Linked DNA regions of Homo sapiens: region 2 is linked to region 1. Evidence: fine-mapped expression QTL. A gene starts in region 1. The other region holds a variant in brackets. All regions are shown on one strand. Distances are between the middles of the regions.

Region 1 (4,405 bases):
TTACAAAACTTTCCAGTGTTCCCATTTTAATTACAGCAAAAGATGTGGTCCATACAATGGCCCACAAATCCCTACATAGTCTGGCCCATTGACCTCTCTGTTTTATCTCCCAGGACTCTCTCCAATTGTCGCTTGGCTCCAGACATGGTGGCACCCTCTCCCCGCCTCCAACATGCAAGGAAATTCTTGCCTCAGGCCTTTGAAATAGCTGTTGCTTTAGCCTGGAATGTTTTTCCCTACCTATCTGTATAGTGAACTCTGTTACCTTCTGTAAGTCTTTGTTCAAATGTCACATTGACCACCATATTTGAATCGCCACCTACTTCAGCACTCCTATTCTTCCTTATCCAGCTCCACTTTTTCTTTATTCCCTCACAGCACTTACCACCTTCTCCCATAGTAAAATAATTTACTCGATTATTAAGTATATTGTCCTGTTGTCCTCTGCTGAAATGTAGACTCCATGGTAGCAGGCGTTTGGGTTTCATTTCCTGATGGATTCCAACTATCTTAGAGACTGGCTGAACATGGTATAGATTCAATAAATATTCATCAATGAAAGAATAAGTGGCCAAACTGATAGTGAAAATGGGTTAAATTCTATAAATACGTTAAAGATATAAGGGGCTGCAGTAGATACCTGCTGAGATAGAGAGGGTGATAAAGAGAGGGAGAGGAGGAGAAAGTAACTCCTGTTACATGGCTGAAGGTATTACTCTTCAAAGCATTGAATGCGAGGAAAAATACACTCAAGTTAGAAAAGAAAAAGAGCACTATTTACATGATCAATGTGTTTACTTTGAGAATAGGAGGCATTCGGTAGAAGATTGCTGAAAGTCTTCAAATTATGTTATTGATAAGGCTCTAGGCTTATTAATCACAAATGGACCTCTGCCATAACTTCCACCTTCTGAATTATTTATATATGTGTCCTTGGATGTCAAATAAACCTATGGTAGTAACTTTTTAAAATATTTCCTAAGGCAAAACATTACTAAGCATCTTTTTTTTTTTTTTTTTATCAAGGCCTGAGATTGAAGTTAGAAAATAAAGTTTAAAAATAGATATTTGAAAAGAATTGCATTTTTGTAATGACATTTTAAAGCACAGAAAAGCTGTGAATACTTTGTTTCAATCAGACCAAATTCACTTTTATAACAAATAAACTGAAAATTCATTAGGTAAAATCTTTCCAGGCATCCAGGCCTTGGGATGTTTCTCTCCCTTAGTTTCATTTCACTGGAAGGAATTCTGGCAGGCTCAGAAATCATATGAACTAACCAGGGGAGGGATGGAATCAGCCTTCATTGCCTGGTGGTTTCTCTCTGTGTGTATTGTGACATGCACACACGTGCAAATAGAGAAAACCTCCATTTAATTCCTTAAGCAATTGTAACAGGCAGGCATCATTTTCATTTAAGCATGAAGATTGGGACTCAAAGATTTGCATAACTTGGGGAAGGTCACACCGTATGAAGGAAACATATTCAAGCCCAGCCCAAACTTCAGTTCTCCCACAGCCAGCTGCCTCTCACATGAGGTCAAATTACCTGACATACATAGAGTGAGTTTGGAAACTTAATAAAAACTCTCCTCCTCTCAAATGTTTCCTCTACCTAAGTCCCTGGCGTTTGGCTCTGAACAAGTCCTTTGAGGGTAAGAGGTACTGATATTAGGAATACTTTCTAAGACACCACGCCAGTGCTTCCATTGTTAGCTTACAGTGCACACACATTCACGGAGTTTATCAGACTCCGTCCAGCCTGGGATACTCTGAGCCTCTAAGAGCCCAGGGAACTCAGACGGCAAAGTTGGAGTAGGAGACCAAATCACCCATCCTCATTCGTCATGCTGATTACTTTGCCTGCAGCTAAACCTGTCTTTAATTTTAAAATTAAATATTTTTAAAAAGTGTTTCTTCCTGTGGAATTGTGTTTTAGAAATTCTGATTTTCTTTTCCAATTTCCCTTGGAGATCAAATTTGAAGAAAATATTATTGAATACCTACATGATAATTTGCTACAGGTAATGTACAAAAGAGAATATAATGACATAAATATATTTGTGTTTATATTGTCATAAAACTCACCTTTCAGTTCTATTTAGTAAAAGCTTACCCTGTATATGGACCCATGCATGGATAGGACATGCTATCTGCTTTCTCATGAGGAGCAGAGGCACAGGTAACTTTGAGGCAGGGAGGTTGTGGTTATGCAAAGAAAGATGATAAAGAAGAAATGGGAGAGCTAGAAGACAAACAGCCATACGTGGTATGTGATAAAAAAGCTAAGTGAGCACATGGACAGAGTGCTAAAGCTCTAAGAGAGAGGAAATCTTTTTATTTCATGGTAGTAAAGCATTTACCACCTCATAATAGTTTTGTGACCTTATGAAAAAGGCTCGGGCTCTCTCAGCTCTGGTTTCCCCAGCTGTAAAATTGCAATGATAACAGCTTACCTCTGAGGATAGTTGTGAAGGTGAGGTGGTGAGCTAAAGAGCTAAGGAATCAATTAGTGGCTTTTATTATCATCATTATTGTTATTCAATGAGGAGATGATATTTGAGATAAGCCTTCCTAGAAAGAATATTTGAGGAAGTTTAGGAGAATGGGAAAGAGAACATCTATGTGGGTATGGGATGGTGAGGGGTGGAAAAAAATGGTGAACAGGTGGCATGTGCATTGTATGATTGGGAAAGGAGAGACGGGAAAGGAGCTGTCTGATTATGTCCTGGTTCCTGATGCCGGCTAGTGTGTGGTTAGGAGGGGATAAGAGGACAGGGCTAGTTTGGGGGCAATAGTTATATTATTTCTCATATGGCTTCTCAATTAACTTAGGATATTCTTCCTAAAGTGTTATCTCTGTCAGGAAAAATTGTGGAAAGACTTTGAAATGGATAAAATAATTACTAGGTGTCCTCTTTAGCTGCCTTTCCATTTTACCTAATTCTATAGGGGTCTGCACTTCTTTTGAACCATTTTATAAATCTGTAATGTGTAGAAAGCTTATGTGAATGCAAATGACTTTTTCCTAGGAATGCAAATAAACTTTGTCCAGTAGAATCAAATGTATTATTGCCCAGTAACTATTGACATCTTCTGTGTTTGTTTATTTCAGCATTTCTGATTGCACGGATGTGTGTGTTGTTTGAATCCTCCCTCATACTGATCGTAACATCTTACTGGTTCACTCATTACTTAAAGAAAATCTTTACATACATTCATTTTATATTTGTTAAGAGTCATATTTTATTGGGAGGTCGAGGCGGGAGGATCACGAGGTCAGGAGATAGAGACAATTCTGGCCAACACGGTGAAACCCCGTCTGTACTAAAAATACAAAAATTAGCTGGGCGTGGTGGCATGTGTCTGTAATCTCAGCTACTTGGGAGGCTGAGGCAGGAGAATTGCTTGAACCAGGGAGTCGGAGTTTGCAGTGAGCCGAGATCACGCCACTGCACTCCAACCTGGTCCTGGTGCCACTGCACTCCAGCCTGGCAACAGGGCCAGACTCTGTCTCAGAAAAAAAAAAAAAGAGTCATATTTTAGTTCATTATTTAATACCTCAGGGCATTTTGCTGAGCATAATTCCTTTCTGGAAGGTCACATGCATTCTGGCAGGGTGTGTCAAGAGGGGTGAAGAGGGGAATAGATGAGAGAAATAGTCTATTATACTAGCAGTCCCTATTGCCAAATCTTGCCAAATTGTCTTACCACCATTCCCACCCCCAAGTTGAAAAAAATAAGAGTTTTGAATTAAGATCTAGAGCTTTCTAATTTTTTTTCTTAAAGCGGGGTCTGCAGAAGAACAACACCATATATGCTGGGAACTTGTTGAAAAGGCAGAATCTTAAGATTCATTCCAGACATACTATATTGTAATCTTTACTTTAATGACATCCTCATGTGATTTGCACCCACTAAAGTTTAAAAAGTGCTGATCTAGAACAAAACAGTGAGACCCTGCAGCTCTCAGTTCACCACCTCTCTGCTTCCTCGTGCCTGGCTGAGACAGAGGTTCAGAGTCCATGCAGTGGCAATAAGAAAAGCCACGAGCCATGAGAGCTTAATTTTTTCTTTTATTAAATAAAGGAATCAGCATAATTGTAAGTCTCCAAAGTTTGAAACAGTTCAAGTTGAATGAGCGTAGAGACAAAAGATAATGGGATATATATATATATATATCCATATATATATATATTATTCTAGCTTAATGATGGGGATACATTCTGAGAAGTGCATCAGGTGATTTCATAATGGTGTGAACATCACAGAATGTACTCACACAGATCTAGATGGCATAGCCTACTCCGTACCTAGGCTGTATGGAATAGCCAATTACTCCTAGGCTACAAACCTGTACAGTCTGTTACTGTACTGAATACTGTAGGCAATTGTAACACAATG
Region 2 (4,405 bases), 16 kb after region 1:
AGGTACTTTATGGAGTAGCGATGGTCTAAAATAGTGAGTTTTATAGAGGATTCATTTGAACATATTTCTGATGACTGTATAACAAGTTAGAAACTTAAAATGTAAAGATGTGGTCCTAAGGCAGAAAAATCGGAGAATAAGTGTTCCACTGAAATGTCTTCTGTGTAACTATGTCCTGTGTGGGATGAAAAATCTATTAACACTTGATGTTTAAGAGAGAACTCAAGAATCACCTGGCTGTTAGGTATTTGTGCTCCAGGTTGGTTGAGAGGTGAGACAGAGAGGGAGAGGGAAAAGGGAAGGAGGGAGAAAGAAGGGAGAGAGGAAATGGGAGAGAGTGAGGGAGAGATGGTGACTGAAATTAGACAGAGATGGAGGATCGTGTTATCTTGTTACCTTTCTTTTATCACTGACTATTCTACCAAACACAAGGCATATTAAAAACTATCTCCACTCTGTACAGTCTCATTCCACACTTCTTTCCCAATTCTCAGCAGTTGAACTTGCCTCCTACTTTAGATTAAAAGTGGAAGCTGTTAGATTGGAAGTATCGATCCTAAACCTACACACACATCCACCTACACATAACACATTCCATCTTCTCTCTCCCTATTACACTGGCAGAGCCATTTCTCCTCCTATCTAAAGTCATCTTTTCCTTCTGGCCCTTGAATTCTCCCATCCTCCACATCCATGCACTGTCAGGATCTCTCTAGTACATTTCTCTCATTCTCCCTCATTTGGATCTACTCCATTGGCCTTTGTCATTGTTTGTTTGCCTTTAAAAACAACATTTTATTAGAGCTCATAATTTTATGGTCAGGAATTCTGTGGTCAGAAATTCAAGCTCCTTTTGGTTGGCCAAGTCTTCTTTTCCACCTCTTTTGACTAAGGTCACTCCATGGAATTCAGCGGGCAGATGGTCAGGCTGGGAGGTCTGCCATGGCTCTGCTCACATGGCTGATGTCTTAATGGGGATGGCCTCAGCTGGGGTCACTGGCCACGGTACCTACAGATGGCCTCTCAAGCATGGTGGCACCTGGGTAGCCCTGCTTCTATTTAATTTTTTTTATTTTTATGATTTGTATCAATACATAATATTTGTACATATTATGGGGTACATGCAGTGTTTTGATACATGCATACAATGTGTAATGATCAATTGGAGTATTTAGGATAGCCATCACCTCAAACATTTACCATTTCTTTGTTAAGAACATTTCAAGTCTTCTCTTCTAGCTATTTTAAAATATAAGATATGTTGTTAATTAGAGTCACCCTACTGTGCTATTGAACACTAGAACTATCCCTTCCATCAAATTGTATTTTTGTACCCATTAACAAACCTTGCTTCATCCCTCTCACCACATCCATCTCTCCTACCACAGCCTCTGGTAACTATCATTTTCCTCTCTACCTCCATGAGATCAACTTTTTAGCTCCTACATTATGAGTAAGGACATGTAATATTTGTCTTTCTGTGCCTGGCTTATTTCACTTAACATAGTGACCTCCAGTTCCATCTATGTTGCTGCAAATAAGAAGATTTCATCTTTTTAATGGATGAATTGTATTCCATTGTGCGTACGACTCACATTTTCTTTATCTATTCATCCATGGATGGACACAGGCTGATTCCCTATCTTGACTATTGTGAATAGTGCTGCAATAAACAAGGAAGTGCAGGCATCCCTGTGATGTACTGATTTCCTTTCCTTTGGATCAATTCCCAGTGATGGGATTACTGGACTGTGTGGTAGTTCTATTTTTTCATTTCTTGAAGAAACTCTATATGGTTTTCCAATGGCTGTACTGATTTACATTACACAACAGTGTACAAGAGTTCCCTTTTCTCTGCATCCTTGCCAGCATTTGTTATTTTTGTCCATTGGCTTTTAAGTATTCTTAAATCTCTCCTTAAAAAAAAAAAAAAAAAAAGAAAAGAAATGAAATCTCACTATTCTACCAAGCCTTCACACCTCTGTTTCTTCTTTCATTCACAGTCAAATATCTTGAAAGAGCTACTTATTCTTGCTAATTTCATTTCTGTATCTCCCACTCAATCCTCAAGACCTTCTGATCTGACTTTGCTCCCTTCTTGCCCTTATCACGCCACTGAAACAGCTCTTGGTAAGGCCATCAAAACCTTCATTTACATGATCTCTGTCTGATTGATACTTTTTATTCCTAACTTGAATATACTCACTAGAATTTGACATCCCTGCTCACTTTCTCTCTTTGGTTTCTGGTTTCCGTGACTTAACACTCCTGGTTTTCCTCCTAAATTAGTAATTGCTCCTCCTCAATGTCGTTAGAAAATTTGCCGTCTTCTACACAGCCACCAAATGCTGTTCAAAACACGGCCTGTGCCCTCTTCTCTCTGCTCTCTCACCTCTCAGTTAGCCAACCTGGAGCACAGAAACCTAACACCCAGATGATTCT[T/A]GAGTTCTCTCTTTTTCAACTGTGGCACTACCGATGTTGTGGAATGGACAATTTCTTGTTATGAAGTGGGGTTCATTATGGTAGCTGTCCTGTGTACTGCAGGTTGTTTAGCAGAATCCCTGACCTCTATCTGATAGAGGCACTCCCCTCTCACCCCTCCAAGTTGTGACAACAAAAAAATATCTACACACATCATCAAATGTTCCGTGGGACATTTGAATCACCCTTAGTTAAGAACAACTGTTCCGCTCATTTTAGGTGAGCTCATTTACACTCATGGCTTTATTTTCCCCTGTCATACAAATAATTAATAAATAACATCTCCATCACTGAAACCTTGTAGAGGCACCAGATGCATGTAAACATTTTCCCTCTTGATGCATTAATCTTAGAAGACTCAAAAGCATTTCAAACTGAATATGGCCAAGAATAAATTTGTAATCTTCCTCCCCTTCCCTAAAACCTAGTACTGTTGTAGTGTCCTTTTTCTCAGTGGGTAGATTTACCATCCATCCACTTATACAAGCTGTCAACTGAGAGTCCATCTCCAACCCCCCCTTTCTAATGCTGCAAATCAAACCATCATTGAGTTTTACTTTTTAGTTTTGAGATATAAAAGTTTCCTTAAACATTAGAGTAAAAGTTATATTTATAAAGGGAAACTGATACATTTAACTTCATAAAAAATAAAAACTTTTAAGATGAAAACACAGCAAAAATAACTAAAAATGATATAATTTATATGAAATAAATAACTAACAGATAAATCACGAAAAGACAAATGACCAAATAGAAAAGAAGGCAAAGGTCAGGAGTAGGCATTTCTTAAAGGAGCATCATGAATGGTGATGAACACACACACAAAAAATGTTCATTCTTATTAGTAATCAGAGAAATAGAAAAGAAAATCATATATAAATAAAACATTATTGTTTGATTTGCATTTGGAATTATTCCCATCCCAATTTATCTTCCTTTGCTCTTTATCTCTTCCATCAACCCATGTCTTTTAACAGGATTACTTTTTTTAATGTCAAAGCCTCCTGTCTTAATTGTCTAGTACAGTCTGCTGCAGTCTTGTATTATTGTTTGTCTGAAAATGTCTTTGTTTCAACTTCATTTTTAAGCTGCATTTTCCTAGATCTAGTAATTTAGCAATTATTTTCTTTTGTTTCCTTGGAAATGTCATTCCATTGTTTTCCAGCTATTGTTGCTTTTGAGACAGCAGTTGTAATTCTATGGTTTCAATAAAAGTAATGTCTTTTTAAAAAAATTTTCTGCTGCTTTTAAGATTTTCTCTTTGACTTGATATTCAGCAGTTTCACTCTGATGTATTTAGCTGAATATCTATTTTTATTTATCCTGTTGGGTACCACTGAGTTTCTTGAATCTGTAGGTTGAAGCTTTTGCCTTGTTAAGGAAAACTCTGAGCTGTTATCTCTTCAAATATTGCCTCATTTTTAACTTTCTGTTCTTCTGGGACCACAATTTTTCAAGTAAAGGCTAGATCTCATGGAATCTACTATATCTTTTCATACTATTCTAATTTTTCCACCTTTGTGTCCTTTTTATGCTATATTCTAGATGATTTCTTCTGAGTTATCTTCTAGTTTAAAATTTTCCTTATGGCTATATGTAATCTAATGTAAAACCTACTCTTTGAGTAATTGATTTTGATTATTGTACCTTAGGCTTAGAAGTTTAGTTTCATTCTTTAGTTTATAATATGCTATATTATATTTTATCATTTTTTGTTTGCTGTTACATTTTCAAGCTTACCTTTGTTTCTCTGCACATAGTACAATCACTTATTTTAAAGACTGATCACACAAAATTTAAATATTTTGTGGGTCAGCTTCTCTTTTTTGTTGGCTCTTGCTCATGATGTCTTTCGTTTCTCTGTTACCTGGAAATCTTTAACTCTATATAGTTATTTGTAGAAATAATTTGAATATCTTTAAAT

Evidence for each region. PIP is the estimated chance that this variant, and not a neighbour inherited with it, causes the effect. A credible set is the group of variants that fine-mapping cannot tell apart.
Region 2: its variant is the best candidate, but not a certain one, in a credible set for the expression of LINC02207 in whole blood (TOPMed, PIP 0.77).

What each region holds. Positions count from the first base shown.
Region 1 is chr15:93,854,120-93,858,524 of GRCh38, forward strand. It overlaps LINC02207 (long intergenic non-protein coding RNA 2207), which reads left to right and starts at 2,441. Exons shown (of 4, transcript NR_120321.1): 1 at 2,441-2,477.
Region 2 is chr15:93,869,832-93,874,236 of GRCh38, forward strand. It overlaps LINC02207 (long intergenic non-protein coding RNA 2207), which reads left to right. Exons shown (of 4, transcript NR_120321.1): 3 at 1-2. Among named protein-coding and RNA genes, the nearest start is that of LINC02207, 15 kb to the left of the region's middle. The variant T/A (reference allele first, on the strand shown) is at 2,443.